Linked DNA regions of Homo sapiens: region 1 is linked to region 2. Evidence: fine-mapped expression QTL. A gene starts in region 2. The other region holds a variant in brackets. All regions are shown on one strand. Distances are between the middles of the regions. Region 1 overlaps HIVEP2 (HIVEP zinc finger 2). Region 2 holds the start of HIVEP2 (HIVEP zinc finger 2).

Region 1 (4,388 bases), 34 kb before region 2:
GAACAATTAACTATAAAAGCATTAGCTATACAGAAAGAGATAGCTTCAAATTGGTATACACAGATTTCTACTATCTATAGACAAAAATCTATCTGAACATTTTTCAAGACCTTAAAAGATGCTGTGTTTACATAGCAATGGTATAGTATACATTGGCAGATGATTCAAAATATTTTAGTATATATCTACATATATGAGTATTTATAATCTGAAAATTAAATCCCATGATTTTAAGACAATTTAAATATAAACTAGGCAGGGGAGAGTGCAGCAGTGTTAGAGAGGAGGTCACTGAGGAATGAATGAATATATATTAAGCATGTTTAATAAGGCTTTATACACCAACATTTTTTGAGATTACATATATCTAAAATGCAAAAAAACCAACTGCCTCTGTTTTTAATCAGAAATATCTCAGGGTCATTATCATAAACATAGATCACCATAGCAAACCTACTCATTTATTTATTTCCATTTACTAGGAAAATACTTAGGGAGCCTCTTCTATGAGTCAAGTACAACATTAAGTCCTGGAGATAACAGTATCATATGGGGCAGGCATGGTCTCAGCCCTAGTAGAACTTAGATTCTGAGTAGAAAGATCAAAAAATAGCTACTGTAAATTGGGGGAAACACAGTAACAGCTTCTGAAGCTACTGAGATGCTTACATTTGCTTACCCCTGCACTCTTGTTTCCTCCAGTGGCCTATATTTTGATCTTTAAGATCTTGCTTCTGATTTTTATAGTTTATCTATTTCCTTCTTCACTTTCAGGCTGTCAGTGATTACATTTGCAGTCAACATGCCATCCTTTACCAGTGACAATGTTTGACTTCCATATACTGCTCCTAATCTCTAGCCAATCAGATCATCAAGCCTATTAAAACTAAGCCTAAAATAAGGACAAACAAGCTCTGAGTGAAGGCTGAATAGGTATTTTCTACCATTGCAGTTTGATAAAATCATTTCATGCATTATCCGTTTCTTTCTGATGAGATATTTCTATTACCCAACTGACCATGCCACCCATTTAAGAAGATAATTTAAAGAAATGTTTTACCAACAAAATTTCCCACTCTTCTCTCATTCTCTTCTAAAATAAACAAAACAGGCCAGGCATGGTGGCTTGCGCCTGTAATCCCAGCACTTTGGGAGGCTGAGGCAGGCAGATCACGAGGTCAAGAGATTGAGACCATCCTGGCCAACATGGTGAAACCCCATCTCTACTAAAAAACACAAAAATTAGCTGGGTGTGGTGGCGCATGCCTGTAGTCCCAGCTATATGAGAGGCTGAGGCAGGAGAATTGTTTGAACCCGGCAGGCAGAGGTTGCAGTGAGCCAAGATTGTGCCACTGCAATCCAGCCTGGTGACACAGCGAGACTACGTCTCAAAAAATAAAAATAAAGATAAACAAAACAAAACAACAACAACAACAACAAACCTACACTTCTGCTTAGAAGCAAGATCCCTACTGCCAGAAAAGTCTTCTTTAAGTACAGTCCATAGAAATGGTATCTTAATATATAAACCACTGTTTCTCAAAGAGTAGTTCTCAGATCACCGGCAGCAGAATTACCTAATTTACCTCTTAACATTAAGGTTCCCTGTGCCTCACCTCAGACCTAGTGAATCACATGCGTAGAGCATGGGGGCCTGAATTTTTTAACGCTCCTTGAAAGACCATCGTGCATGATACAGCTTGAATCCACTGATCTAAATAACCAAAGAGTACACATTGAAAATGTCAGTCTGAGCCCTAAAGACTCAAGTCCTCTATTTTACTACCAGTCTGCAAAATTTAATGAATGCCACCCTCTGCAATGCACTGGATAAAATTAAGTTTAAAAAGTTCAAGACAATAAAGTTTAAAGGTCACCTCTACCCAGAGAGTTTCCACTTTAATATGGAAGACAAAGCACAAACACAT[TA/T]AAAAAAAAAAAAAAAAAAAACTTAAAAATAAGCACAAACAACATTTCAGGGGAGCCCAGTGAATAGAGGACAAACGTGCTGAGAGGGGCAGAGCCTAGGACTGAACAGAATACAGTTGGGATTCAGAAAGGAAGAATTCTAAAACAAGTTTGGGGCAGAATTTAAACATAGCAATTTTCAAGTGGGTCTCTAAAAAGGTGTGATGATTGCCATAGGGCATTTAAGATCAAGGAGAAAATATGTATAATCATATCTCTTGGTACCATAGTCAACACAGAAAGAGAAGTGTCCTGCAGGCTTATTAAAAAGATGAGATATTGGTTTGGGAAAACCTCCCTGAAAAGAAGGTTTTATAAACATATATTATCTTTTGAGGCAGACAGAGGAGGTATTGTTATCCCCAGATTTACAGACGAGGAGACTAAGAATCATCTGAGACCCTTTTTTGCAGGGTTCTTATTATAGGACAAAGCTGGTCCTTTCCTTCCATCAGGGACTCTTTGCTCAGCCTGACACTGCTCCCAGGAGAAGGATCATTAATTCACTGTCTCAGAAATGAGACAACAAGCCATTCAAAAACATATTTCTCCCTCTGTCCAGTTCAAGAAACAATCAGGGGAAATGTGTGTGAGTGTTTGTGTGTCTGTGATGCGTATGTGTGCATGATATGTGTGCATGCATGTAGATCTATGCATGAGTGTGTGTGTCGAGGGTATCACTGACTAATTTAACTGACCGCTCATCATTTCATAATTAATGAGTTACTGTATTTTAGTGTCTAATGGATGTTTCAGTGCTAGTACTTATGGCTAATGATACTGAAAAGCAAAAGCCAATCAAAGTCTCTGACTTTGTGATTTGATTTGTGATCAAGATAATTATCTGAAATCTCCATACTGGGTTAGTGACAGCAGGTTTCCTCTGGCTGTGCTATCCAGTATGGTAGGCACTAGCCATATGTGGCTGCTTAGGTTTAAATATAAAATTAGCATTAAATAAAATTTAAAAATTAGTTCCTCAGCTGCACGGCCACATTTCAAGTACCCCAAAGCCACTTGTGTTTAGTGGCTACCATATTGGCCAATGCAGTTCAATTGGAGAGCACTGCTCCAGAGTGTCAGTCTTTCTGAAAAGACAACTTCAGGCCTCAGTGTATACAACCATTGTTATTTACATCTAGTTCCAAACACATGCTAATAACAGTGATCGAACTTTTGTCCCTCCCACTAAGGCTTCTCAAGCCCCTCTAGTAGAATTCATATATTTCTCCTCAGAAATCCCTTCCCCCTTCTCCTCATCACACCTCTCTTCTCGTGGCTGTTTTCATCCTGGCTTGATAGCTACGTGCACATCCATCTCCTCTACAGTCAGCTTCTCAAGGCCAGTGGGTCATGTTCAGTTACCAGTAATGGTCCATGGCCTTTTAGGAACCGCGTCGCACAGCACCAGGTGAGTGGTGGGCAAGCGAGCATTACTGCCTGAGCTCCACCTCCTATCAGAGCAGCGGTAGCATTAGATTCTCATAGGAGCGTGAAACCGACTGTGAACCGCGCATGCGAGGGATCTAGGTTGCATGCTCCTTATGACAATCTAATGTCTGATGATCTGAGGTGGAACTGTTTCATCCGGAAACCATCCACCATCCCCACACCATGGAAAAATTCTCCTCCATGAAACTGGTTCCTGGTGCCAAAAAGGTTGGAGACTGTGAGTTTAAAGAATGGTAAGGTTTTGTGATCATTCCTACGAGGTAGATGCTTAGGTGGAATTATTGCTTGTGCTGCACATTTATAAGGAGAAGAAAAAATCAAATGATTTTAGAAGTGGGTATGAAAATGTACTTAGCAGACATAAATCAGAAAAGCACTGGGCTGTATTGGAGGTATTGTTATCCCCAATTTACAGACGAGGAGACTAAGACTGTCATCAGCCAGCACACAGAGGATGGCCCCTTACCACAGCAGGGAGACAAAACCAGGACTCATGGTGACCTATGGGAACCGAACTGCTTAGCTTAGGATGAGCTTGTCAAAAAGTTGTATCAATTCATTTCTTACTCATGCTGTTACAACATCTTCAAAAACTCAAGCCTTGGGATGCTAATGAGAACTTCTACTTTCACTCTGACGACTTCTGAAACACGAAAAACGTACATTTCCTTCATGCTATCATTTGGATAGTTTCAAAGTACCTGAAGTATGAACAATATCTGATTTTTTCAATAAACCAGTTTGAGGGGGAAAACCCATGGATCAGGGCACACTGGCTGTCCCCATGAAGACAGAAAATACTAAAAAGGATTGAAGAGTTATCACACTGGTACTTCACTGCTCACTGCTTTCTTTTGCCAGCTTCAATGCCATACTTAACTAAGTATCTAATTGCCATACTTAACTAAGTTTCTAGGCACTTTCCCACAAGCCTTGGAAGAAAGAGGTGTCTACAGGGCCACCATAGA
Region 2 (4,388 bases):
AACAAAAATACAGATGCAAATAAGCAAATTTTGTTTTATACCCGACCTATGCTCGACGCAAGAAATTGTCTCAATGTTCAAAAGATTCATCATTGTAATACATTTCTGTATATAAGAAATATACTGCATATTTCAAACCTAGTGGTCAAAGGGATTATGACACTTGAAACAAACACACTATCATTAAGTAAATACTGGTAAATCCCTTTCAGCTCACAATGCAAATGTACAGTTGTCATTTGGTACTATGACTCCTTAGGGTTCCACAGGGAATTTTCTCTTAATAATGAAAATGATACCCACTTTAGTCACAGAAAGGACATTTCTGTTCTGATAAACCATTTGGCCTATATCCTAAAAATCAAACCCAATCTACTCATTCCACAGTCTACTTCGTTAAAATTCTGCTTCTGGCACTCTTATAAGGTGAAAAAGCAATGAGACATTTGCTACATATGTAGCAAACATATGGGATCTATATGTGCAAATATTTAAAATAACTTGGTTTGCTCAAGGGCAAATATCACCAAATATTACTATATCACTGGAGGAAACGTTTCTAATAAAGTTAAATGGCCTTTTTCTAGGAGGACAGATCATTGCAAATTTAATTAAAATGGATCTTATTAATATTTCAAGTAATGTCTGGGCTTGATTATGCACTACAAAAGAAACAACTGTATTGAGGAGAAAAATCAATAGCCCTTGACTAGGGCTCTGGGTATGCTAGAAAAACACAGATCTCTTGTGAATTATTGAGGTCCAGCTTTAGGGTTGGGGGCGAGTACCAATATTCATTTGGAGGTAAATTGAGTTATTTTTAAAATGGCAGAAAAGGAAGGAGAAAAATCAGCTCAAATTTTCCATTATAATGAAAGTACAGGAAACAAGCCTTTCTATATTCATTTTAGGCCTAAATAACTCTGCAGAGAATAAGGGTTTTGCAATGTCAGTTGCACACACAACTTCCTGTGTGAATGCTAAGCCATTACAGGTGTCCTAAGGCCTCCAGTGAAACCTATTATCAAGAGATTCCTCTGGTCTCCTCGAAGTCATCCCCAGCGCCCCCCATCCGCCGCCCACACATTATTGCTTCTCTCCTCCAAGTGTCTTGATTAAGGACCCTCTCTCTTCTCCGCACTCCCGAGGTTAAAGTGCCCCCGTTCCCTTGGTGTAGCTAGTTACAAGCTTTCCCGTTAGGGAAGACTAGTGCCTGCAGTCCTTTTTAGTTAGATGCTTTTAAGTCAGAGATGAGAGGAGCCACTTGAAGAAACCCTCCTTCCCTTCTTCCTTTCCCCCACTGGGAACCAAGTCCCTGAAGGACAACACCCAGGGACGCTTCCTGACCTTCTATCCCCTCACCCAATTTGGGCTTGGAGGGTTGGGGTCGCATTTTCTCATGTCCTCTGCTGCACTGGATGTGTTATGTAAGAGGGACAGAACGCGGGAGGCACATGCGTATAAAGCGCACCGATCTGTGATAACAGCTGGGGTAGCAGAGCGGATCTGGAGTCCACCCCCCCCCCCCACCAAATACGACAGACCCCACACATGCACATCAGCACCCCCTCCCCCACACACCCACACACACACACACACACGCACACACCCAGAGCAATGTTTTCCTGTCTCACCCCTACCAGTACCAGAGGCACAGAATGGAAAGGCGGGGGGTGGGGGTGAAAGGAGGTGAAAGAGGAGGAGGAGCAGCAGCAGCACATCTGCTTTGATAGCAGCCGGCAGTGCCGCCGCGGCAGAGAGCCCCTCGTTAACCCCCTTCCTGTGGCTGCACCACGTCATGGAACATTCCCGGAACGGGCCAACGTTCCACCCACTTCAGGGAACAGACATAAAGGCGCAGACCCAGTTCCCCACAGTGCACAGCCCAAACACACATGTCCCTTCCCGATCCCCCGCCAGACGGACAGACAAACACGCATGCAAACCGCCCCCACCCGTCTCCACGCGCCCGGGTCCAGCCGGCAGCGGCCAGAGCCGCTCTGCAGCCGGTGCACCCGCAAGGCGAGGGCGCCTCCGCCTGAACCTTCCATCGAGACAGTCCCCTCCTTCCTCGCTTCCTTCCTTCGCTCCTTCCTTCCTTCCTTCCTTGCCCGGGAGGTAAAGGGAGTCACTGAAATGCCCAGAGCCAGCGCCTTCGCTGCGCTCGCTCGGCCGCAGGCCGGCGGCCCGGGCCTCGCGCCGCCAGCCCGCCCGGCCGCCTGCGCCGCGCGCCGCGGCCCCCTCCCCCGCTACCTGACAACGGGCCGCCGCCGGCCGCCGCAGCCGCAGCGGTGGCCGGGCCGTGCGCGCCGGTGCACGTCGCTCATTAGTAAGCAGGCACATTCCTGCCTCCAGCGCTCCCGCGCGGCCCCCTCCCCCCAGGACATTACGCAAAGCAGCCTCCCCTCATCTGCATAGATCCGCGGCCAGGGTATTCCCCGCATTTCCCCACGCGCCCGACACCCCTCCCGCGGTCTCCCCCATCCCCGCCCCCTCCGACCCTCACCCTCGGGCCACCGGGAAGGGGCTGGGGGCACACGCCGGGGAGCGGGGGACGGAGTTCGGCGGCGGCGATTCCAATATAAAGTGAAACAAGCTCCCAGCGCCGAAGGAGGCAGGAAAAACCCAGCGTCCAGGCCACTTACCGAGCCGAGGAGGGACCTAGATTCCCGCCGCTCCGCTCTCGCGGTGGCCGGTCCGCCCTCCGCGCACCCCGAGGCTGCACCCAGCACCCCAGACGCGAGACGTGGAGGAACGCTGTGAACGAGCCGGGAGACCCTCCAAGTTGCTCTGGGCTCCGTGGAGCGTCAAGGTCCAAGACACAACTTGGCAAAGACTTGTGCCACAGTCACCGAAGATGTTTGTGCGGAGACCCTCCTGCGGGGAACGACGGCGCTCGGCGGCGCCCCGCTCTCCTCCTCTCCACCCCCTCACCTCCAGCCCGCCTCCCGCCGGCCGCCCGCCTCCGGGCCGCGAGCCCCTCGGGCGGCTGTCAGCTCCCGGCCGCCGCCGGGTGACAGGGGCGGGAGGAGGGCGCGACGCGGCGGCCCGAGCCCCAGCGGGCGAGGGGGATCCTCGCAGCCGCGGCGGCCGCTCACCTGGAAAGTCACCGCTGAGGAGGAGGAGAAGGAGGACGGGGAGGAGGAGGGAGAGGAGGAGGGGGAGGAAACCCCCCTGGTGCCCTTGTTCTCGCTGCCGCGGCGGCCGCTCCTCGCCAAGGCTGAGCGTGTCTGGTGGGGGGTGTCTGGTAGCATTTCCTTAAGGACAGAGGGAGGGCGGGCGCGGAGGGAGGGAAAAGATCCCGACCGCCAGCCCAGGCTCCTCTTGCCTTTATTTATTTTTCTGACACTGTACGGAGATGGGCCCGGGGCAGGGGCCGCCGGGCTCAGGCGGGAGCCGCGAGGCCCGGGCCGCAGCTGTCTGCGTGCGGGAGCCGCAGCGGCCGCCTCCCCTCCCGGGCTGTGGACGCACCGGGTTATTCCTGGCAGCGCCTCCCCGAACAGAAGTTACTAGGAGGAGTGCGCGGCGAGGGCGGACGGGGGGAGAGGCGGAGGGAGGGAGGGAGGAAGAGGGAGAGACTCAGCCAACGACGTCATCGGATCCCCCAGCGCGTCCCAGGGAGGGAGGCTGAACCAGAAAAACCAGTCTGGAGCCAGTGAGCGAGAGAGGGATGTGCGGCGCGCGGGGCGACGGGGGAGGGAGGCGGTCGGGAGGGCAGGGCCGGGCCCCACGGCTGCCGCTGCGGGCGGGGAGATCGCGGCCGCGCACTCGCTCGGTCGGAGCGGGGAACTCCCCGGAGAGCTGGTCTCTACTTGTCATGCAAAAAAACTTGGGCATCTCTAGGAGCCTGAGAATTTCCTTTAAGGATGTGGAAACGTCCTCCGTCCCCACCCCTTCCCCATTTCCCAGAGAATCGTTGTCTGCCTTCCTGACGAACGGAATTGTATAATTAGTAGTGCCCTTAGATTTGGAACCAGTACTCCGGATCCCTGGCCTCTCCTCGCCCCCTGCCTCTACTCACAATTATGTTATCGGTCAAGAAAAGCAAAATCAGACTGTGGCTCCCGGCTGGGTTTCTGGAGCTTTGTAGGGTTTTACTAGCACTTTCCGTGCCCCTGCGGGCGCGCGAACTATTCACGTGCTCGAAACGCCCGGATTACCTTCCCTGAGGTCACTCACCAGGGTGCCCCCGGCACCCCCAGTTCGGGGACCGCGGCCCGCCCTCGCCAGGGGATTCAAATAGGTGTGGGCAGCGGCGCGAAGAGCAGCTGCCGGTTTCCTGGTGGGCCGCGCTGGAACCTCGGGGCGAGCTGCCACCTTCAGCCTGTGCGCTTCCCTCTCCACGGAAGGGACCGGAGTTGAAATCACAACCAACCCTGGGAGAGCGG

Evidence for each region. PIP is the estimated chance that this variant, and not a neighbour inherited with it, causes the effect.
Region 1: its variant is fine-mapped to the expression of HIVEP2 in whole blood (INTERVAL, PIP above 0.99).

The regions. Positions count from the first base shown.
Region 1 is chr6:142,909,211-142,913,598 of GRCh38, forward strand. The region is part of intron 1 of HIVEP2 (HIVEP zinc finger 2); the gene reads right to left. Among named protein-coding and RNA genes, the nearest start is that of HIVEP2, 34 kb to the right of the region's middle. RefSeq lists enhancers at 2,814-3,670, 4,303-4,372. The variant TA/T (reference allele first, on the strand shown) is at 1,929.
Region 2 is chr6:142,942,846-142,947,233 of GRCh38, forward strand. It overlaps HIVEP2 (HIVEP zinc finger 2), which reads right to left and starts at 2,331. Exons shown (of 10, transcript NM_006734.4): 1 at 2,254-2,331. It overlaps HIVEP2-DT (HIVEP2 divergent transcript), which reads left to right and starts at 3,644. Exons shown (of 3, transcript XR_001744397.3): 1 at 3,644-4,388. RefSeq lists silencers at 1,961-2,030, 2,171-2,270, 2,471-2,700, 2,931-3,560, 3,611-3,830.